7 linked regions of the Homo sapiens genome follow. The protein of the gene in region 6 interacts with the protein of the main gene of each other region in a pairwise test. Each region holds a gene or a part of one and is shown on either strand. Other genes may lie near its edges.

What was found.
Region 1: the proteins of ZGPAT (region 6) and TRIM14 interact in binary tests that used the Homo sapiens proteins (3 or more experiments, as listed by UniProt).
Region 2: the proteins of ZGPAT (region 6) and CDCA7L interact in binary tests that used the Homo sapiens proteins (3 or more experiments, as listed by UniProt).
Region 3: the proteins of ZGPAT (region 6) and TCF19 interact in binary tests that used the Homo sapiens proteins (3 or more experiments, as listed by UniProt).
Region 4: the proteins of ZGPAT (region 6) and ZNF426 interact in binary tests that used the Homo sapiens proteins (3 or more experiments, as listed by UniProt).
Region 5: the proteins of ZGPAT (region 6) and ZNF329 interact in binary tests that used the Homo sapiens proteins (3 or more experiments, as listed by UniProt).
Region 7: the proteins of ZGPAT (region 6) and MIPOL1 interact in binary tests that used the Homo sapiens proteins (3 or more experiments, as listed by UniProt).

Annotation. Positions count from the first base shown.
Region 1 is NC_000009.12:98,095,223-98,098,722, forward strand, and holds part of TRIM14 (tripartite motif-containing protein 14), read right to left. Parts: intron 1-3,500.
Region 2 is NC_000007.14:21,918,400-21,921,899, reverse strand, and holds part of CDCA7L (cell division cycle-associated 7-like protein), read left to right. Parts: intron 1-3,500. UniProt on the Homo sapiens protein: Plays a role in transcriptional regulation as a repressor that inhibits monoamine oxidase A (MAOA) activity and gene expression by binding to the promoter.
Region 3 is NC_000006.12:31,161,589-31,164,715, forward strand, and holds the end of TCF19 (transcription factor 19), read left to right. Parts: coding exon 1-417; intron 418-888; coding exon 889-1,129; 3' UTR 1,130-1,228; coding exon of another isoform or gene 1,229-1,238; 3' UTR 1,239-2,627; downstream 2,628-3,127. Other genes in the region: POU5F1 (POU domain, class 5, transcription factor 1), read right to left, coding at 3,013-3,127. UniProt on the Homo sapiens protein: Potential transcription factor that may play a role in the regulation of genes involved in cell cycle G1/S transition. May bind to regulatory elements of genes, including the promoter of the transcription factor FOXO1.
Region 4 is NC_000019.10:9,525,685-9,528,645, forward strand, and holds part of ZNF426 (zinc finger protein 426), read right to left. Parts: coding exon 2,696-2,961; 3' UTR 1-2,695. UniProt on the Homo sapiens protein: May be involved in transcriptional regulation.
Region 5 is NC_000019.10:58,130,290-58,133,789, forward strand, and holds part of ZNF329 (zinc finger protein 329), read right to left. Parts: intron 2,388-3,500; coding exon of another isoform or gene 2,350-2,387; intron 1-2,349. UniProt on the Homo sapiens protein: May be involved in transcriptional regulation.
Region 6 is NC_000020.11:63,732,039-63,734,340, reverse strand, and holds part of ZGPAT (zinc finger CCCH-type with G patch domain-containing protein), read right to left. Parts: intron 1,123-2,302; coding exon 989-1,122; intron 755-988; coding exon 602-754; intron 1-601. UniProt on the Homo sapiens protein: Transcription repressor that specifically binds the 5'-GGAG[GA]A[GA]A-3' consensus sequence. Represses transcription by recruiting the chromatin multiprotein complex NuRD to target promoters.
Region 7 is NC_000014.9:37,267,437-37,270,936, reverse strand, and holds part of MIPOL1 (mirror-image polydactyly gene 1 protein), read right to left. Parts: intron 2,280-3,500; coding exon 2,144-2,279; intron 518-2,143; coding exon 412-517; intron 1-411.

The sequences.
Region 1 (3,500 bases), on a different chromosome or scaffold from region 6:
CATGCGGAGGTGCGGTTTTTCAGTGCTGGCACTGGGGATTCCTCCCTCTCCATCCTTCCTCCTTTCCTTCCTTCCTTACGTGTTCATTGAAACCTACTCTGTGCCAGCTATGCATGCAGAAGGCAGGGTCAGGCTGACACGGGGCCCTTCCCAGAGAGGCTTCAGCCTCACACACACTGCGCCACGGGTCTGCCTTGGGTACAAAAAGGGTGAGAGGTCAGTCTCCCTGGGGAAGGAGCACCTGGAGCTTATTCAAAGGTGGAGCAGGAAACCATGTTCTAAGAAGGACGCCAAAGGCCAGCAAGGTTCAGCTGCAGTGCTGACTGAGGGGGTGTGGCCACCGCAGGGGACATGTGTCCTGTTTTGCACCTGGACAGCCCCTCTTCAATACTTTCCTGTGGTATGTGGCTTCACTAAGGAGAAGCTAGAAAACCCCCTCTCCCAGCTCCCTTTGCACCTGTGCTGCAGGAGTGTGACCAGACGCCTCCAAGCCAAAGCGTGGATTTGGAAATGACGGTGAAGGTAGTGATGGTGGCATGTGGCACTGAGGGACAGCAGTGGTGGGGGCTCTGGTCAGTGGTGTGAGTGGTGATGTCTTGCCCAGCAGGGGTGCCGTGGGGCCTATACTGGCACCAACCCCTGCTGGAGTCTGGACTTCATTCCTGCTGCCCATCTTCCATCCCGACTCTCTGGCCCTCCTGGAGATCCTATGGGCTATCTCATACTCTTCCATAAACTCCTTTCTTGCTTAAAACAGTTCCAGTGGATTCTCATGTTTGCAGGTAAGAACCATGGCTGCATTTTCTGAAGCTCTGTCCTGGCCAGGAGTTGGAAGGAAGATGACTGCCTCAGGTGATCAGGCTTGGCTGGCAGTGGCAGTGCTGCCCACCCGAGAAGGGGTGGACAGATGAGGGCCTCAGGAGGGAGGGAGGGTGGCCTAGCACTTGGCTGTTGGGCAGGGGCAGATCCCACCTGGCAGCATGCTGTACATTGGGAGGGGGCTGTGAGATGGCCTGCAAGCCCCATTCAGCCTAGGAGGCCAGGAGTCTATAGAGTCCAACCTCATTTTGGTGGGGAACCAGGCCTAAGGTCACACCCAGAGCGCTGGAATGGAGCTGGCCAGGGGAGACCAAGCACTAGCAGGAAGTCCAGGGTGGGCAGGGAGCAGCTCCGGGGAGGCGAGAGGGGGCTCAGAGGGCAGATGAGTAGGGTAGGATGAGGGGTCGATAGAGGACACATGGCACCACCTGGTAACCCCAAACTCCAGCAGCTAGCACCAGACCTGACACACAGGTTCTCAAAACATATGTATGATGGAATAAATCAATGCATGAAACCGAGCACAGCCACTTTTTTGCCTTTGCAGACTCAGAGAACAGAAATCCCAGCCCTTCATCTCTCAGGCCAGAAACCCAGGCATCATCTGGGGATTCCTCCTACCCATTCTCCAATTCCAATCTCCATTCCTGTGGCATCTCTTGACCTGCCTGTTTCTCCCCATCCCCACTGCCCCTGTCTTGGTCCAGGCCACCATCATCTCTCTCCTGGACATTGTGGCCTCCTCCCAAGTTCTCTTCCAGCCTCCCATCCTGGCCTCCTCTGTCCATCTTCCACTCTATCTCTAAAGTGACTTTTCTAAAGCACTAATCTGACCATGTGAATGCTTTCATCCCTCAGTTCAAAACACTCCCCTGGGCTGGGTGCAGTGGCTCACACCTCCCAGCTCTTTGGGAGGCCAAGGTGGGCAGATCACTTGAGGTCAAGAGTTTGAGACCAGCCTGGCCAACATGGTGAAACACTGTCTCTACTAAAAATACAAAAATTAGCTGGGCATGGTGGCACGTGCTTGTCGTCTCAGCTCTTCCAGGGGCTGAGGCAGGAGAATCCCTTGAACCTGGGAGGCAAAGGTTGCAGTAAGCTGAGATTGAGCCACTGCATTCTAGCCTGGGCAATAGAGTGAGACCCTGTCTCAAAAACAAACAAACAAACATTCCTGTCTCCTATCTCATTACAGGACAAAGTCTGAACTCCATGGCACATAAGGCCTTCATGAACTAACTATGGCCTATGGATCCAGCTGTGTCTCTCAATCCCCCCACCCTTATACCCTCACCTCTCCTCAAGTCAGGCTGCACCCCAGCTGGTTCCCCAGCCTGTCAAGCTCTCACATGTACACAGTTCCTGTCTGTCCTCTCTGCGTCCTCTCTATATACAGTGTGCTCCTACTCATTGTCCAGCACCCAACCCTACCATCACCTCTTCCTAGAAGTCTTCCCAGACTGCATCCTTCTCCCAGCCAGAGAGTGTCAGACATTTCTTGGACATAATTTTGCTAGCTTCATATTTACAAAATTGTTTAAGCTGTATTGTAAATAACTGTTTCTGAGCAAGTCCCCCACCCAACTGTGAGCTCCTAATGTCCAGCAAGTGACCTGGCTCAGTACATATTGATGAATAAACGAATGAACACATAGAAGGTGGGAACGGTGAATGATTAAAATCATTAGCTGTGGCCCAAGAGAATTTGAAAAAAAAAGATGACAAAGCCCTGAAACCGTTTTCTGATGTGAGAATAGCATGCTTCTCCATGGAAGGATTCCTTTGTATTCCATAGCCTTAAAAACGACCATTATTTAAAAAGAGACAATTACATGTAACACTTTGTGCATCTTGCCTCTCTTAAAGCACAACACCCATTATGCCTAGGAAAACACTTCATCCAGAATTTGGCTCAAACAGCTGACAATGAGACACAGGCTGAACCGACTGAGGCCACATAAAGACACAAGAGTGGAAATCCCCAGCTGGAGACTGGCTTGGCGGGTTTTGTGTTGACTGGCTTATTTGTCTGTCTTATTTTCCAGCCAGAGCCCATACTAATCTGTGGTTAGAGTTGGTGCCACTTTTAGTTGTACCCTGCCTTGTCCCACAGCCTTTAAAGTGTCTTGTGAAGGTCCTCTAATAAGGCAAGATTTTTCTTTATAGCGAGAAAAATGAAGCTAAGAGAAAATTAGACACAAAGTGTTTGCCATGAAGCCTTAGTCTGGTTAGTCAAAGCAGATTTGGCTCTGAACTTCCCAAGGCAAAGAAGGAAACAGGAGGAGCTCTATTAGTGGAAAAGCAATTCTAGTGCAGAAGTGACTGCACAGGGATATTGACACCAGACAACAGTTTCTTCCACGGTTCCCTAAAGACAGGAACACCATCGGCCGGGTGCGGTGGCTCACGCCTGTAATCCCAGCACTTTGAGGGGCCGAGGGGGGCGGATCACGAGGTCAGGAGATGGAGACCATCCTGGCTAACATGGTGAAACCCCATCTCTACTAAAAAATACAAAAAATTAGCTGGGCGTGGTGGGGGGCGCCTGTAGTCCCAGCTACTCGGGAGGCTGAGGCAGGAGAATGGTGGGAGGTGGAGCTTGCTGTAAGCCGAGATCACACCACTGCACTCCAGCCTGGGCGACAGAGCAAGACTCCGTCTCAAAAAAAAAGAAAAAAGTA
Region 2 (3,500 bases), on a different chromosome or scaffold from region 6:
TAAAGACAGAGTAGACAAACAGAAACTGTACATGAAAGGAATAGCATGAAGTTGTCGATTTTTAACAAGTATTATAAATAATGAAACGGTCTTTTCACTTTCAGATGAGAATTTTCCCTTTTTTTTTTGGTTCACTAGATAGTAGTTATCCTAATTCAGAAGTTCAACTAATGTAAATATCCATTGATTGAGAAATTTTGTATTTTTGTTGTTTTCAGTTACTTGTTGTAGTTTTCTTTTTGGTGAGTCTTATGATTGGCTTTATTGTAATAGAATGGAACACAAACTTTGAAAAAAAAAAAAAAAGGTCTTGCATTTTTGTCTAGACTATGCAGCTACCCAGTGGATCGCTGCTGAATGGAACAGGAAAGTGACAGATCCTTGGGCCTAATGTATCACTGTGTTGTGGAACTGGTCATTCATTAGAAGAGGTCCCTGTGTATCCTTTCTATCAGGTCCTTCTCATATAAATCTTGCTGCCTTTGTTGCATCTGTTAGACAAATCAGTTCGTTGCATTGAGGACACTTGAATATTTTACAGTTTTTTTTTTTTTTTTGGCAAATCTTGAAGCTTGTGACTATCTGAAACTCTTTTAATACCTTTTGAAGGATCAGAGCCCTGCGTACCCCAGGAATGCACACCGTTTTTTTGAAAGTGTGCTCTTTCCTTTTGTTCCTAATCAGTAATTATAGCCCCCTAATGGTACCTCTGGAGCAGATGCAGAAGTCAAAGATGCAGAAGGAGGAATTAGCTAGTCAGACACAGGCTCGCAGCAGTGGTGGGGCTGAACACAATAGCACAGGGACTAATGCAGTTGCTGCTGGAAGCAGTTTATTCCTATCACCAACCCTCTCCATTCCTTGTATGTATTTCCATTAAATCCATAAATGGGGTGCTCCTCCTCCTTTAAACCATTTATGTTAAAAGAAGCTTCTGGGCCAGCAGGGCTGTTTGAATTTTGTAGAATGGTGAGAAGGCCAAAAGAAAAAGACTGAAATTGACACACTGTCCCTCTTAGTGCCTCTGCAGGGACTGAACTCAGTGGCTATTATGTAGCTACAACATAGGCACACTTTCATAAGTATTGTCTGTGTTTCTCTAGTCTGGGTGTTTTCCTTGCGTATTAGTTCTGAGTGCTAAACAACAACAAAAGGTGTCTTTGAAAAGATAAGGTGGCAAACATTGTTTAACATACCTCCTTGAGAAAAGTTTCAATATTTTCCCCAAGAATGATGTCAGAGTTAGGCTTTGCTAGTGCTGCACTACGTGTGGCTGGTAAAAAAATTGTTAGTGGAACTCTACTTCTGTAAGTGTTGTTCTTGTTTGTCCCTTGCAGTGATTTTATTAGATGGTGGGAAAGTGTTTGTATTAACCCTTCAGCATCACTGAACTTGGGGTATCCCATTTCTGTATTTATGTTACACTTCCTTTGATTGAACCATTATTTTCTAATTATTTTTAATCAAGAAGCATTAAAATAAGGATGAAAGTAAATAGATTAAGGATTACCAGTTTCCTAAATGGAACCTGACTAAATGTAAAATTAAGTCAACACACCCACACAGAGAATTCCACGAAGCTAAGTAGCTTTTGAATACACAACTCTGTATATGCTAGTGCAGTGGTCAAAGTGTGAGATGGAGGACCTGAGACCCTTTCACGGGTCCATGAGGGCGAATGTAATGTCATAATAATACTAAGATTATTTGCCCTTTTTGCTGTGTTGATATTTGCACTGATTGTGCAAAAGCCAAAGTGGAGAAAACTGCTGATCTTTAGCATGAATCCAGGTGGTAGCAACAAACTGTATTAGTAGTCATTGCATTCACCTCCATGCACTCAATTTAAAAAGAAAATGTCAGTTTCACATAAGAATGTTCTGATGAAACAGTAAAAATTATTAAGTCTCAACTGTTAAGGACATCTTTTTAATATACTGCATGATGAAATGGGAAGTACATGTGAAACATTTTTGCATAACCATGTACAATGATCATCTGGTTAGCTGAAGGAAAAGATCCTGTGTATAGTGAGACTATGTTCCAGGGCTAGAAAGAACTGCAAAGAAATCTTGAACTGCACTGTTTGTTGTTGGTAGTATATTGGTGGCGTCAGTTTGGCGCTATTTTGTGTTTATTGTAGATAGAGCACCACATGGATAAGTATATTAAAAATTTTGGGAATCGAGGGTTTTCCTTGTGGTGGAACGGCGATGCTAATGTGAGATGAGGGAGAGATGAGGGAGCAGAGGAAGAAGCCTCCGTGTTGGATTTGAATTCAGGGTGTCACCATGAACTTGTGATTTACCTATTTAAAATATCCTTGCTCTGTCCAAAGAGCCTACAAGCAGTGATACTTAATTAACCGAGATGCATTGTGTTCTCCGAGCTTGGTTTTTAAATGCCATTTCCCAGTGAAAGGTTTCAGGGCTCCTTGGAGAAATGGCTGATTTGAGGTCTGGGACAGGAAACATACAAGGTTAGCTTGCCATGCTTGTGTCAGAAAGCAAGGAGGTGTTGAAAGACCCTTAGTGCCATGTCAGAAAGACAGAGGATGACTTTCCAAGAAGCTCCCAATGGCCAAATTTGGGACAGTCAGCATTATGAGAGTATGGATTATAACACATTTAATAATAATTTTTAGAAATCCATGGATATACATGGTAGAAGAAAAGGGGGAGAGTGAGAGAAAGACTATATTATACAAGAATGCCAGCTACTTTGTGAAGGAGAGAGAAAATCTGAAAATTTCTCTTTTGCAGTCCCTAATGTAATAATTCATTCAAGGGTGCCCTGGCTCATGCCTGTAATCCCAGCACTTTGGGAGGCTGAGGTGAGAGGATCACTTGAGGCAAGGAATTTGAGACCAGCCTGGGTAACATAGACCCTGTCTTTATTAAAATAAAAAATATAAAAAAAAAGAATTGTCAATGGACGCTGAAACTGTTGAGCAAGATGTTATCAGGGAGGCTATTCACAGAATCTCAAGTCTCACTCTGCATATTCCTTATTAGTGACAAAGGAGAAAGGGTGTTTTTTGTTGTTGTTATTGTTTTTTGTTTTGTTTTGTTTTAAAAGCGAAGAACAAATCAGGCTGATTCCACCTTAACTTATTGACCAAACAGCAACATCACTAAAAAAAGAGACAGCCAGACCTTATGTGCTTTCCAAAGGAAGAACATAGCACTTCCTAAAAAGTAGTCTTGGCAAAAGCAAGCCAACTAGAAGTAAAGCCTCCGGATTCAACTCCCAAATTGTAAACCCAAATGAGTCTGTTAAACACCACCTTGGGGATGCAAAAAAAATAAAACTTCAGACTTGGACAGACTCCACAGTCAAGTGACCCAGCTTCTTCAAAAATAAACTGCAAGAGAAAAGAGATAAAGGAGTGATGAGAAGGGATTTAAGAGCCATGTTGATCAGTGTGAACCTTATTTGGATCATGATGCAGATAAACTAAGTTTTTAAAAAATGAGGCAGAAGAACTGTGAATACAGACT
Region 3 (3,127 bases), on a different chromosome or scaffold from region 6:
GCCTCAGGACTTTGCTGCCATTACCATCCCACGGTCTAGGGGAGAAGCCCGGGTTGGGGCTGGTTTCCGGCCTATGCTGCCCTCCCAGGGGGCTCCACAGCGGCCTCTCAGCACCTTCTCCCCTGCCCCCAAGGCCACACTGATCCTAAACTCCATAGGCAGCCTCAGCAAGCTCCGGCCCCAGCCCCTCACCTTCTCCCCTAGTTGGGGTGGACCAAAGAGCCTGCCTGTTCCCGCCCCACCTGGGGAAATGGGGACCACGCCTTCTGCTCCACCACAACGCAATCGGAGGAAATCTGTTCACCGAGTGTTGGCGGAACTGGATGATGAGAGTGAGCCTCCTGAGAACCCGCCACCGGTCCTTATGGAGCCCAGGAAGAAACTCCGTGTAGACAAAGCCCCACTGACTCCCACTGGGTAAGTGGAGTCCTCACTTGGCCCTCTCAGTGTTTTACTGCTTTTCGATTCCTTGTATCCCTAGGCTGTGAGGAGGTCCCCCTGCCTGGGGGGATGGGCACGGGAGGTGGAATAGATGGAATGGCAAGACCTGGGTTAGCTCTGATAGGAAAAGAAAAATATGTGCAGGAGAACATGAGAGGTGGGGTGGGGCAGTGCTTATAAAACAACCGGAGTGAGCATGTCCTGCTTTTTACATTCATATGGCTTTAACCCCATTCTTCTAGTGCCTAAGGATGGGGAACTTTCAGGCTCATACTAGAGGTTTTTAGGCCCACCCTATGTGTTTTTAAGGACAGAGTCCAGGCTCACCTTAGTTCTCAGACCACTGTGCCTCTGTGGCCTCACCCTATGACCAGCCATAGGGTGGCAAGGTCTAGGCCTTCTCCTACAGGTTTCCGGTGACCCTTGTGTCTGTGTCACTTCCTTCAGAAATCGACGTGGCCGTCCTCGGAAGTACCCAGTGAGCGCTCCCATGGCTCCCCCTGCAGTTGGGGGCGGGGAGCCCTGTGCAGCTCCTTGTTGCTGCCTGCCCCAGGAAGAGACAGTGGCCTGGGTTCAGTGTGATGGCTGTGACGTCTGGTTCCATGTGGCCTGTGTTGGCTGCAGCATCCAGGCTGCCAGGGAGGCCGACTTCCGATGCCCAGGGTGCCGGGCTGGCATTCAGACCTAAGGTCCACTGCCAAGGCACCATCGGACACACCTGCCCATGAGTAGACACAGCAGCGAGCAAATAGGTCTGATAAATACCCCCCTTCCCTTCCCTCCCCAGGAGGGAATGACTACAGGGAAGAAGGATGGATTGATGTGGACTCATTCAGGGCCTGGAGCAGACCCTGGTGGCCAAGACAGAAGAGATGGTTTCCTGCCAAAGATATTGCCACCTCCAGGAAATTGCCAGTGAGCTGGAAGTTCCCACTATTACAAGCCATAAGGCCATGTTGCCATGGACACCAGAATATCTGTAGTCAGAGCACCTATCAGTTGCAAAAGCCATGCCTGCAACCGATGGAAAATGTAAGAGGGAGTTCTTAAGGTTCTTGGTGGCATCACCCAAGGCATTCTGGGAAAACCTAGGGCCTGGCCCCAAAACTTCCCTACTCTGTGGCTAGTCCTGCTGCCAACAAAATCGTAGCGACCTGGCTTTTCACAGCTTTGCTTTTATTTCCAAGTCAAGGACAAGCCGCTTCATTCACTCCTGGGCATTTACTCTTCTTGTGGGTCTGTGATATTCCTTGCTTTCCAGGGAGAATGTGCTTGGCAAGGTCTGGAGAACTAATTCAGAATCTTAGGGGAAGGGGAGAGATGGAAATACAAACCTGCTTACTGGAAAGGTGCAAATATATGGGTTGAGCTGGAGGTAGGAATACAGGTAATTAAGGTTTCTAGTTTAAGGGAAAACAGATCTATTGCCATTTAAATAAGGTAACTGGGATTTGGTTAAGTTCACAAAGATAGCAGAAGATTTATTTACAGGCTTCACCTGTACTGTCAGGGCAAGAGAAAGCCTGGTAAACCAGCTACAGCAGTTTACCAGTGTGATGGCTGTGACACAGCTCCACTCCACGGGTGGACACAGCAGAGGGCAACTGGGCTGGCCTGGTTCAGTGTGAATCAAACCGCTTAACCCACACATGGTACATGTGATTTTCTTTTGTGAGCCTTACACCAAGCCAAACTATTGTCAAAGCATCATTTCTATAGAAATAAAGCCTTATCTTGACCTGTTCTATTAAAACCTGCCACACCCGCCCTTTCCTACCTAGATTTAATGAGCCCAAGTTTTTAAAATGGAAGAAATGACTCTGGGGCAAAGACCCCTAATGAACTAGTGGCAGAGCCAGGAATAAAACTTGAGTAACTAATGAGTCACTTATGGGCAGAGTATGCAAAAACCTTAAGTGGAAACCAAATAGACCCTGGTATCAAGAAAGCACAAAGTATTAATAGAAGTTTCTGGTTGGGGTGATCTAGGTTCAACAGAAATAAGATGATTTCTAAGTATAAAGCCATTTAAGAATTCCAGAGTAGGGTGGGAAAGCAAAAAGCCAGCTCTGAACAGGTAACAGCTACATGGTGACTGAGTCTATGGGCAAAAGTTCTTGCATCACAGGCTTTTGGGAACTAGCCTATCACAGGGCCCTGTACAAATAAACTTGGCTGCAATCCCAGCTCTCCCTCTGATGTTGTGTGACCTTAAGGAGTGTAAATGGCACCTTAGTTTCAGGGTCACTTGGGTATGAGCATTGGATATTCCCATCCCTACCTCAGTAACTGAAGGACAAACCAAGATAAGTGTGTCTATCTACTGTGTCCCAGGCTTCTTTATTTAAGAAAAAAGTGATACATGATGTGGGATTAAAATCAAGAGCATCATTGAACTTCACCTTCCCTCCAACCAGTTGCCCCAAACTCCCCTGCCCCCACCCTTTGTGTTCCCAATTCCTTCCTTAGTGAATGAAGAACTTAATCCCAAAAACCCTGGCACAAACTCCAGGTTTTCTTTCCCTAGCTCCTCCCCTCCCCCTGTCCCCCATTCCTAGAAGGGCAGGCACCTCAGTTTGAATGCATGGGAGAGCCCAGAGTGGTGACGGAGACAGGGGGAAAGGCTTCCCCCTCAGGGAAAGGGACCGAGGAGTACAGTGCAGTGAAGTGAGGGCTCCCATAGCCT
Region 4 (2,961 bases), on a different chromosome or scaffold from region 6:
CACCATGTTGGCCAGGATGGTCTCGATCTCCTGACCTCATGATCCACCCACCTCTGCCTCCCAAAGTGCTGGGATTACAGGGTTGAGCCACTGCGCCTAGCCTTTTATTTATTTATTTATTTTTTTGAGACAGTGTCTCACTGTTTCCCAGGCTGGAGTGCAGTATCACAATCTCGGCTCACTGTGACCTCCACCTCCTGGATTCAAGCAATTCAGGCTGGTCATGAACTCCCAACCTCAGGTGATCCACCTGCCTTGGCCTCCCAAAGTGCTGGTATTACAGGCATAAGCCACCACACCTGGAGTTTTAGTCAGAGCTTCAGTGACCTGGAGGAAGGGAAATATCCAACTCCAGCCAACTCTATACATCCTGACCCAACTAAAGGGTGGGAAAAACTGAAGTTCACAGTGCAGAAGCACAGACTCACTGCAAGACTGACATCTAATCCCTGGACAATAGAATGCTGCCCCTCTCCCCACAGCTTATCATGATTACTAGAGGCCTGCTTACAGCATTTCCTCTTATCCAGTATGCCATGTCCAGCTAAGGAAAAATTACAAGCATACTAAAAGGCAAAAGTTAGTTTAAAGAGAAAGAGTAAGAACCAGAACCAGATATAGCAGGATTGCTGAAATTATCAGACTGGGAATTTAAAACAATTATGATTGATATGCCATGGGTTCTACTGGATAAAGCAGACAGCATCCAAGAACAGACAGGCAGTGTAAACACAGAGATGGAAATTCTAAGAACCACAAAGAAATGCTAGAAATTGAAGACAGTGTAACAGAAATGAAGAATGTCTTTGGTAGGCTTATTATTGGCCAAGAAACAGCCAACTAAAGAGCTTGAGAATATATCAGCAGAAACATCCACACCTGAAAAGCAAAGAGAAGAATAAAAAAACAAGATATAAGAACTGTGGGATAACTACAAAAGATGTATCCTACATATAAAGGAAATACCAGATGGAAAGAAAAAAAAAGGGAAACAATGACAGAATTTCTCAAAATTAACTCAGACACCAAAACGCAAATCCAGGAGGCTAAGCAAACACCAAGAAGGACGAGCACCAAAAACCTATACCTAGGCATATCATTTAAAAATAACAGAATATCAAAGATAACAAAAAATTTTCATAGAAGCCAGAGGGGGGGAAATGCTTTAAGTATTGAGGATCAAGTATAAGAATTACATCCAACTTTGAGCATAGAAGGAAGAAGTGAAGGTAAAATAAAAATGTTTATTTTTCTAATACTTAATTGATCTGATAACTTCTGAAAAATAGCTACAATGTATTAGATTACATATGCTAATTTGTGTGTGTTTATAGGCATAAAAGTGAAATATAGTAATGATGGAAGGTCTGAGAGGGAGGATTTAGGATTATTTTGATAGTATAAGGTACTAACACTACTCAAGAAACGGTACAGTATTATCAGAATTCATGTACTTATTATGGCATGTGAAATATTTAAAGGTTATACCATATTCCTTACCTTCCCAGGGTTCTGAGGTAATTTTACATGTGTAAAAAAAATTCTGTGGAATTAATGTAAGGCTTCCTACATGCATTACAGGTAAAAGGCTTCTCTCCAGTTCGACTTCTTACACCTTCTAGAAGGTAGAAAACATTAATGTAAGCTTTTCCACAATCCTAATGGGATTTCAGTCCACTCCAAGTTCCAGTATGGTGTATGGGGTCACATTCCTTGCGTTCACAGTAAAAGAAACTTTCTTTCCTTTTTTCTCCTCTATTTTCACATGGTCTACGACCAGACAACTTGCATGTGAATATTAAAATATAGTGAACATTCACAGGCTTTTTCATGCTCCTTACATTCATACAATTTCTCTCCTATGTGATTTCTCCTGTATGTAGAAAGGACTGAAGACTCAATGAAGGCTCTCCCACGTCTTACATTCATATAGTTTCTCTCCAGTGTGGCTTTGCATGTGAATATTAAGGCTTTTGGACAATCTATAAACGTTTTTGCTTATTGCTTACTGTATTCACTTGCTAGAGCCACCACAACAAAATACCACAGACTGGGTGGCTCAAACAAGAGAATTTTATTTGTTCAAAGTTCTGGAAGCCCAAGATGAAGGTGCCAGCAGGGTTGGTGGCTTTGATAGAAGGATCTGTCCCAGTGCTCTGTCTTTGGCTTGCAGATGGCCATCATCTGATGACTTCACATCATCTTCTATTTGTTGTCTCAGTTGTGTCTTTCTCTTCTTATAGGGACACCAATCATATTGGATTAGGGATGTACTCTAACAGACTCAATTTAATCAAATAATTTTCTTTTTTTTTTTTTTTTGAGATGGAGTCTCACTCCATCGCCCAGGCTGGAGTGCAGTGGCATGATCTCTGCTCACTGCAACCTCTGCTTCCTGGGTTCAAGTGATTCACTTGCCTCAGCCTCCCAAGTAGCTGGGATTACAGGTGCCCACCACACCTGGCTAAATTTTTTGTATTTTCAGTAGAGACAAGGTTTCACCATGTTGGCCAGGGTGGTCTCAAACTCCTGACCTCAAGTGATCCACCCACCTCAGCCTCTCAAAATGCTGGGATTACAGGAATTAAGTAATTTTCATGCAGCTTCTTCTCTCCAGAGTGAGTTCATTCATGTCTTTAAAGTGAACTGGAACAAATGAGAGCTTTCCCACATTTATTACATGGACAGTTTCTCACTAGTGAATTTGTTCATGTCTTCGAAGTGAACGGGGATGACTGTAAGCTTTCCCGCATTGCTGACATTTATAGGGTTTCTCTTCTGTGTGAGTTTTTTCATGAATTCTAAAGGAACTGGAACACGTGAAGGCTTTCCCACACTCCTTGCATTCATAGGGTTTCTCTCCAGTGTGAGTCCTTTCATGTATTTGAAATGAACTGGAATGACTGAAGGCCTTTCCACATTGTTTACACTCATAGGGTTTTTCTCCAGTGTGGATTCGCA
Region 5 (3,500 bases), on a different chromosome or scaffold from region 6:
TCCAGCCTACGCGGCAGAGTGAGACTCCATCTCAAAAAACAAAACAAAACAAAAACTGTCAAAGACTGCCCTGCATGGTTGTTATAAAAACTGGATCATGTCGGCCAGGCGCGGTGGTCACGCCTGTAATCCCAGCACTTTGGGAGGCCGAGGTGGGCAGATCACAAGGTCAGGAGATTGAGACCATCCTGGCTAACGTGGTGAAACCCCGTCTCTACTAAAAAAATACAAACAATTAGCCAGGCGTGGTGGCGGGCGCCTGTAGTCCCAGCTACTCGGGAGGCTGAGGCAGGAGAATGGCGCGAACCCGGGAGGCGGAGCTTGCAGTGAGCCAAGATCGTGCCACTGCACTCCAGCCTGGGCCACAGAGCAAGACTCCGTCTCAAAAAAAAAAAAAAAAAAAAACTGGATCATGTACAAAGCAGTCTCCAAGGCTAGGGGATGAAGGGCATTCTGTAAATGGTTGCATGTGTCTTCATGCATATCAATCTTCCTGTCACCATCCTTGTCCATTCAGACTTCACAATATTAAGACAACTGGTTGTCCATTCATTCGTTCATTCATTTGGTGGGATCGGGTCTCGCTCTGTCATTCAGGCTGAAGTGCAGTGGTGTGATCTTGGTTCACTGAAGCCTCAATCTCAAAAACTTCAAGCAATTATCCCACCTCAGCCTCCCAAAATGCTGCAAATACAGGGATGAGCCATTGTGCCCAGCCTTCTTTCTATTTTTTAAGGTAAAATGAAAATAGACCCTTGCCTCAGAATACATACATACATATATGTCTACATTCTAGGCAATTTAAATATATATACATGTATATGTGTATATGTGTGTGTGTGTGTGTGTGTGCGCGTGTATTTACATTTCAGAAGGATACAGGCTGCAACATAAAGTCAAAGTTTAAATAATGTAGTATGCCTTCATAAGTGTGGCAGACTTTGATCAACAAAACTTAACCAAAAAACCATATGGCCAAGCATTGGGGGTCATGCCTGTAATCCCAGCACTCTGGGAGGCTGAAGTGGGAGTTATCACTTGAGCCCACACAGAAGGCTGAGGCTGCAGTGAGCTGTAATTGTGCCACTGCATTCCAGATTGGGCAAAAGAGACCATGTCTTAAAAACAAAAAACAAAAACCAAAAAATAAAAAACAGACAAGGATTAAGAAGTCTGATATCAGCATTCAAATTTTCCATCCAATAAAAGACACAATAAGAGACAAAATGCAAGTGGCAGATAGGGAGAAAATAGGACTTAAAAGCACAAAGAATTATTGCCCAAGAGCTATAGAGGATTCTTACAGAGAGAAAATAAGATTTAAAAGCACAAAGAATTACTGCCCAAGAACTACAGAGGATTCTTACAGAACAGCACATAAAAAGAAAAAAAATGGGCAAAGTAATCAAAGAGCACTTCGTGAAGGGAAAATAGAAATGTCCTGAAAACATTGGCTGGGAGCAGTGGGTCACGCCTGTAATCCCAGCACTTTGGGAGGCTGAGGCAGGTGGACCACAAGGTCAGGAGATCGAGACCATCCTGGCTGACACGGTGAAACCCCGTCTCTATTAAAAATACAAAAAATTAGCCAGGCGTGGTGGCGGGCGCCTGTAGTCCCAGCTACTTGGGAGGCTGAGGCAGGAGAATGGCATGAACCCGGGAGGCAGAGCTTGCAGTGAGCCGCGATAGCGCCACTGCACTCCAGCCTGGGCAACAGGGCGAGACTCTGCCTCAAAAAAAAAAAAAAAAGAAAGAAAAAAAAGAAATGTCCTGAAAACATCAATATTTATTTTCTCATTCTATCATTCAGGCAATTCCAAACTGCGACTTTAAGAACACAAAATATACACATTTCACGTGAGTAAAAATAAAATGAAGTACAATAATATAAAGCTTTGGTAGGTCACAAGGGAAGAGGGCTTGGAAAGTGGTCAGCGTGCTTGGCAGGGTACCTTAGTGGCAGCTGTGAAAACATAAACTGGGGGCAGGCGCGGTGGCTCACGCCTATAATTCCAGCAGTTTGGGAGGCTGAGGTGGGTGGATCACCTGAGCTCAGGAGTTCGAGACCAGCCTGACTAACATGGTGAAACCCCACCTCCACTAAAAATACAAAAATTAAGCCAGGCACAGTGGCTCACGCCTGTAATCCCAGCACTTTGGGAGGCTGAGGCAGGTGGATCACCTAAGGTCAGGAGTTCAAGACCAGCCTGGGCAACTATGTCTCTACTAAAAATACAAAAATTAGCTGGACGCGGTGGCGCATGCATGTAATCCCAGCTACTCGGGAGGCTGAGGTAGGAGAATCGCTTGAGCCTAGGAGGCAGAGGTTGCAGTGAGACAAGATTATACCATTGCACTCCAGCCTGGGGGACAGAGCGAGACTCCGTCTGAAAAAAAAAAAAAAAAAAGAAAACATAAATTAGGTATATTCTACCACCCAGCAGTTCCACTGGTAGGTATCTCAGAGTCAGAAAGCTGGATAAACGAACATCAATCCATACCTACGTAGATAGATGGTCTTTTTCTTTTTTCTTTTTTTTTGAGACAGAGTCTTGCACTGTCACCCAGGCTGGAGTGCAGTGGTGCGATCTCAGCTCACAGCAAGCTCCGCCTCCCAGGTTCACGCCATTCTCCTGCCTCAGCCTCCCCAGTAGCTGGGACTACAGGTGTCTGCCACCACGCCCAGCTAATTTTTTGTACTTTTAGTAGAGACAGGGTTTCACTATGTTAGCCAGGATGGTCTCGAGCTCCTGACCTCGTGATCCGCCCGCCTCAGCCTCCCAGAGTGCTGGGATTACAGGCGTGAGCCACCGCGCCTGGCCAATAGATGGTCTTAAAGGCCAGCAGAGAGAAGAGAAACCACCAGTGAATGACGAAAATTATTACAATAGATCACTTAATAGAAAAACTGGAAACCCAAAGGTAACGGAAGGCTACTTTCAAAGCACTGAAGGAAAAAATCTATCAGTCACACTATTGTTCAAGAGCAAAGGTGAGATAAAGACTGTTTCAGAGGCTGGATGTGGTGGCTCATACCTGTACTCTCAACACTTTGGTAGGCCAAGGTGGATGGGTCACTTGAGCCCAAGAGTCTGAGACCAGTCTGGGCAACATGGTGAAACCCCGTCCCTACAAAAGATACAAAAATTAGCAGGGTGTGGTGGCATGCGCCTGTTAGTCCCAACTACTTGGGAAGCTGAAGTAGGAGAATTGCTTGAGCTCCAGGGGTTGAGGCTGCGGTGAGCTATGATTCACTCCAGCCTGGACAACAGTGAGACTGTCTCAAAAAAAAAAAAAATTCAGAAAAGCAAAAGCAGAGTTCATTTCCAAGGATACTAGCCAGAGGAATTAGAAAATGTTGTTCTTCAAAAAAACCCCAAGAACGAAGGAAGGAAAAACAAAGGAATTGATGAATATGATGAATGTGGGCTAGGTGTGGTGACTCACACCTGTAATCCCAGCACTTTGGGAGGTCGAGGTGGGGGGATCACTTGAGCCCA
Region 6 (2,302 bases):
ACCAGGGACATGGGGCTTCAGAAACCACCATCACTGATCCCTGGGTACACCTCCAACATGCAGACCCCTCCTGGACTCAGCCCGCCATGCTTGGGTCAGGTGACCTCCCACATATATACACACACACGCACACGCATACACACACCCCTCTGGAGAGCTGGACACTGCCCACCAGTTCCCATTCCCGAAACTTCCATGCTGGCTGTCTGGACACAACCTCTGTCTGCCAGGATCCCAGGCACCCAGGTCCCAAGTCTGAGAAGCCATGCAGAGGAGCTGCCCCTCCTGCACTCCAGGCCCCATCAGTTGGTCATTTTCTGTGACTTCCTCGGCAACTCCAGGCCCCTCCTCTCCCATGGCCACAGCCACGACCATGGCCTCCCATCAATGAGACTGTAGCTGTTGCACCCACACTCCTTGAAGATAAAGGCCGCCACGGATCTACCCCTACCCACACGGCCTCCTCAGGCACAGGTGGCACCCTCGCCGCAGTCACACACTCTCCAATAGTTTGGTTAGATGGTTGGTGCCCTCACCGGCCAGGAGCCTCTCAGGGTGACCCCACCTTCCTGGCTCCTGGGCTCCGCAGCTGCTGCCATACCTCTGGCATAGCTGGAGTCACCCGTACCGTCGCTGTCTGAGTCGGACTCTGTGGCCTCTGTGCGCAGTGGGGGCAGGATGCCGTCCCCCTCCACCACGGCCTCCCTCAGCAGCAGCGAGTCAAACTTGACTGTGTAGTAGCCGTTGTCCACATCTGGGGGCAGAGACAAGCTGCAGGTCAGAATCCTTGACAGCAGGTGCCACTGAAGGGAACCACCCTGGACATGAGGAGCAAGGCAGGGCAGAGGCTGAGGGTAGGTGTGCTCATTTCGGGCCCAGAGCCAGAGTCCCGACACTCAACCCAAAGGAAGCAGGGAGCAGCCACACAGTGACAACACACGTGGGGCCTGGGAGGGTGTTCCCGGGAGGCCCCCACGGCCAGCCTCACCGGTGATGCGTGCTGCGTGCCAGAGGCCATCCTGGTGCTTGGCCAGACACGCAGAGCCGGCCTGCAGGGAGCTCAGGTCTGGGTCCTGGAAGGGGCGCAGCTCATCCAGAGAGACCACCTGCCCATGGGAGAACCTGCAGACAGAGCCGTAAGGGGCAGGGCTCAGACATGGGCCACCAGGGGCAAACCAACCCAGGAGCACTGACCCATCCGCCTGGGCACTGTCCTGAGGGAGACAGACACACACGCGTGCGTATACATACACACTCTCACACACTCACGCACACACATACACACGCACACATACACACACACATGCACACACTCACGCACACATACACACATGCACATATACACACGCACATACAGATACACATGCACACATACACTCACACATACACATATATACACACTTGTGCATATACATGCAGGCATATACACACACATGCATATACACACGTACACATACACGCATACGCACACGCGCATATACACATGTACACACACATGCACTCACACAGGCACACACAAGTACACATACACACGCATAAACATGCACTCACATGCATACACACACGCATATACATACGTACACAGGCATACACACACATATACAGACATACACATATACACATACACAAGTACACATGTATACACATGCATACACACATGCACACAGGCATATACACATGTACACACACATTAACACATGTACTCACACGTCATACACATACACAGAGACCCTGACACGCGTATAAACATGCACTCACACATGAACTCATGCAAATACAGATGCAGTCATACATGGATATACGCACACGCCATCTCACCCACACGCGCGCACACGTGCCCTCACCCACACACATACGCCCTCACCCACACACATGCGCACACAAGCACCCTTACCTACACACATGCGCACACATCTCTCACCCACACACACGCACACACAGGCCCTCACCCACACACATGCGCGCACACACACCCTGACACATGCACACACACACCTCACCCACACACGTGCACACACATGCCCCCTCACCCACACACATGCACACACACACGCCCTCACCCACACACATGCGACCTCTCATCCACACACACGTGCACGCACACATGCACCCGCACCCAAACATGCACACACAGATGCACCCGCACCCACACATGCACACACATATGCAGTCACCCACACGCGCACACACATGCACCCTCACGTGTAGACTGTCACGTGCACTCACTCATATATGCATATACACATACATGCACACACATGGCATGCATATACACACATGCATATACACACTCACACTTGCA
Region 7 (3,500 bases), on a different chromosome or scaffold from region 6:
TGAATATGTGACTATCTTCATACAAAGGAGAAGTATTTCCTCTCAACGAGCTAAAACAATAAGTGGTATTTGAACTGCTGGTTGAAAGGTAGAGGCACTGGTAATCATTATTTCCCCTTGTTTGTTCAGCCCCTTCCAACAAAACAAACAACCTTTTTGTGATTGGATTGACATGGTGTTAACAATGCATTTAATGCCCAAATCAGTATGAATACAGGTAAAGCTCTCACTAATACCAGTACCAGGATGTTAAAGCCACCTATTTTCTAAGCAGCCAAAAAAAAAAAAAAAAAAAGGAGAGCTTCCCCTCCTTTGGCAAATAAGCCAGTATGCTAGTATTCACCAAGATACATCATATAATAACCTTGTGTGTGATTCTTCAAGCCATGTGTTAATACTCCTCTACTATACCTGCTGTCTTTTCAGCAATTTTAGCTTCTGTTTCTTTCTCTTGGAGTTCCAGCTTAAACTTTAGTTTTCTCTGTTCTTTATCTTCTTTAGCCAATTTCTGCTGAAGCTAAAGCACATTGAAAAAAATCATGGATTCTTATTTGACAAATGTCTTGCAAAAATATAATTAATTTCAAAGTTTTTGGTTTTTTCTTAATTCTTATATTATATTTAACTTCCTAGATAGATAACTCCAGAAAAAAATTTAAAATTTAAGTTATTTATAAAGTAATAATTACCTGTAGTTATACAGAAATTGTAAAAACATCCCAATATACACTTAATTTATGTGTATATGTGCATGAACAGGCAAATTAAATTCAGAGGACCAACATTATTCTTAAAAATAACTACTGCAGTTCAGATGTGGTTGCTCACGCCTGTAATCCCAGCCCTTTGGGAGGCCGAGGTGGGCAGATCACCTGAGGTCAGGAGTTTGAGACCAGCCTGGCCAACATGATGAAACCCCGTCTCTACTAAAAATACAAAAAATTAGCTAGGTGTGGTGGCGGGCACCTGTAATCCCAGCTACTCGAGAGGCTGAGGCAGGAGAATTGCTTGAACCCAGGAGGCGGAGATTGCAGTGGGCTGAGATCGCGCCATTGAACTCCAGCCTGGGCAACAAGAGTGAAACTCCATCTCAAAAAAAATAATAATAATAATGACTACTGCAAAAGCAGTCTCATTCATCCTTTTTTCTTAATGCAAAATATTTGGAAGGGATTTGCCTAATAAAATAACAGATAGCACTGCTTTACAGTTTATCTTAGTAAATCCAATATTCTGAAACAAAATTAAGACAATAATCTTAATATCTGATACAAATCTCCCTTTGAGAATACTACCCCATCATATTCCATTTAAATTGACACTGACACCTGACTCATAAGTGGCATGTAATAAATAACTGCTAAATGAAAGTACAGAAAACATCTCATACAGAATCCCTCCACATGTTTTTTTAATTCCTCCCTAGGTTTTTGTCATTTTAGTTGTTTTCCTCCAAACATGATCAACATTCCTAACATCATGCTTCAGTTTGATTAGGTTACACAACTAGAATATTAAAATCAGAGCAGTATGTAGAGGTTAAAAAAAAAAGAAGACACAGAAAATGCACATTATTTAATAAAATTATTTAATGATCACATGACTATAACTAGAATAAGAGTCAGAACAGAAGATAAAACATAACGTGACAAATTGGACTGGACAAAATGCAGCAGTATAAGATTAACACAAGGTAAATGACAATATTGCCAAGCCTTGCTACTGAAATGTTTAATTACATGTATTATTGAGGTCAAATATAGGGCATGGATACTAATAAAGAAAAAAAAATTAAGATAGTAACATGAAACCAGTGCATTCTATCTCCCATTCTCTATAATACTGAAGCAGAGTTTTACTAAAACTTGAATCTTTTTTTTTAAAGATATGTATACAAGGAACCAGGGGCTTATGAAAAAGGAAGTGCTAATGTGGACCAGCAAGGTATGAAATCAAAAAAATGCTTTCATTTTCAACCCCTTAACTCAACCATACCCTGATGGCAAGGTATGGCAAAAACATAAAGCTACTGTTAAATGATTAAAGTGCAAAATAAAACTGAATTATGATGGGCAACAAAGGAAATTTAGAAGATCAACAGCTAAACCCATACTATACAATTATCAGACTTTCCATATTATACCTTTTTATTGCTTGTTCTGAGAATATCCAATTCTTTTAGAAGAAATGCTATTGTCTTCTCTTTATCTGAGTCTGAAGTAACTTGACAAGGAGTCATACATTCATAATGCATATCATTATGTCTATGTTCCATAACGCTGTAATAAAGAAACTGATTAACATTTCAGAGTAAGATAAACTAATTTTTTGACATTTTGTATGCTACTTGAGAACAGTATCAACTTGTAAGCAAACACCATAAAGGAAGGGAAAGGAAAAGAGATGGGCTGTTTTTTTGAAGGCCTTATATTAAATTTGTAAGCACAGGTAAATTTTGGAGTCACTAAGAAGAAATTTAGTGACGGCTGGGACAGTCAGTGCAGCTCTATTTACCACGTACATCTCCTGTTGTAATTATGCTAGATATCTCATAATCTGACTTTAGCCCAATCTCTACTATTTACTTTACCCATGTGGTTATAAAATGTTTATCCCTACTTCATTCTTCTGTGCTTCTACTCCTCAAAAGGGACTCCAACCTACACCTTAGTAAGAATCTGAAAAAGGGATGGGAACATATCAATACATCTATTTCATTATATGTTACTATCTATTAACATATCTACTGAATAATTTGAAAGTAGAATAAAAGTTCCTATGCAAAAATCTGTTAAAAATAGTATGCTGCAAAATATTATTTTGTCTAGACTGAAAATATATTAGTCACTGAAACTTCTTTTTAAATCTAATAATATTTTTCTAGCACATGACTAATTATCAAAGTTCCTTAATCTCATGGGTAGAAGTATCAGGTATCACAAATTCAAATCCTTTCATGAGCTAGGTAGGCAAGGTTACTGGGTAAAAGCTGAGAAAGTAAAATAATGAGGAATGCAAATGGTAGAGAACAAGGCCCTTTTAAAAGCATCAAATTCATTTAAATGAAAAATAGCGCTAACCCAAACCAAAATGCATGTTTGGGCTTACCTTGTCCTGGAGCTGCCAGTTTTTTACTTTCATGAATGATATGTCATGTATATCAATTTAACAGTTATTTCCAAATACATAAAGAAAGGTCACAGAAAATAATATTGAATAAAATAGAATTAAACCTGTCTTTCTTCAGATGCACTTTGTGCTTTTTCACTTAGTTAACTAGACATATTATATCCATACCATGGAAACAGTAGAAAACCCTGGTAGATTCGCCAAGTTCTAATAAGTTTAGAATTAGCCAACACCAAAAAGAAAGAAGGAAAGAGGAAGAAAGGGAAGAAGGGAGGGAGAAAAAGTTCTTCCAATTCTAACTTTCTCTTTTTTTTTTTTTCTTCAGACAATCTTGCTCTGTTGCCTAGGCTGGAGTACAGTGGCACAATCTC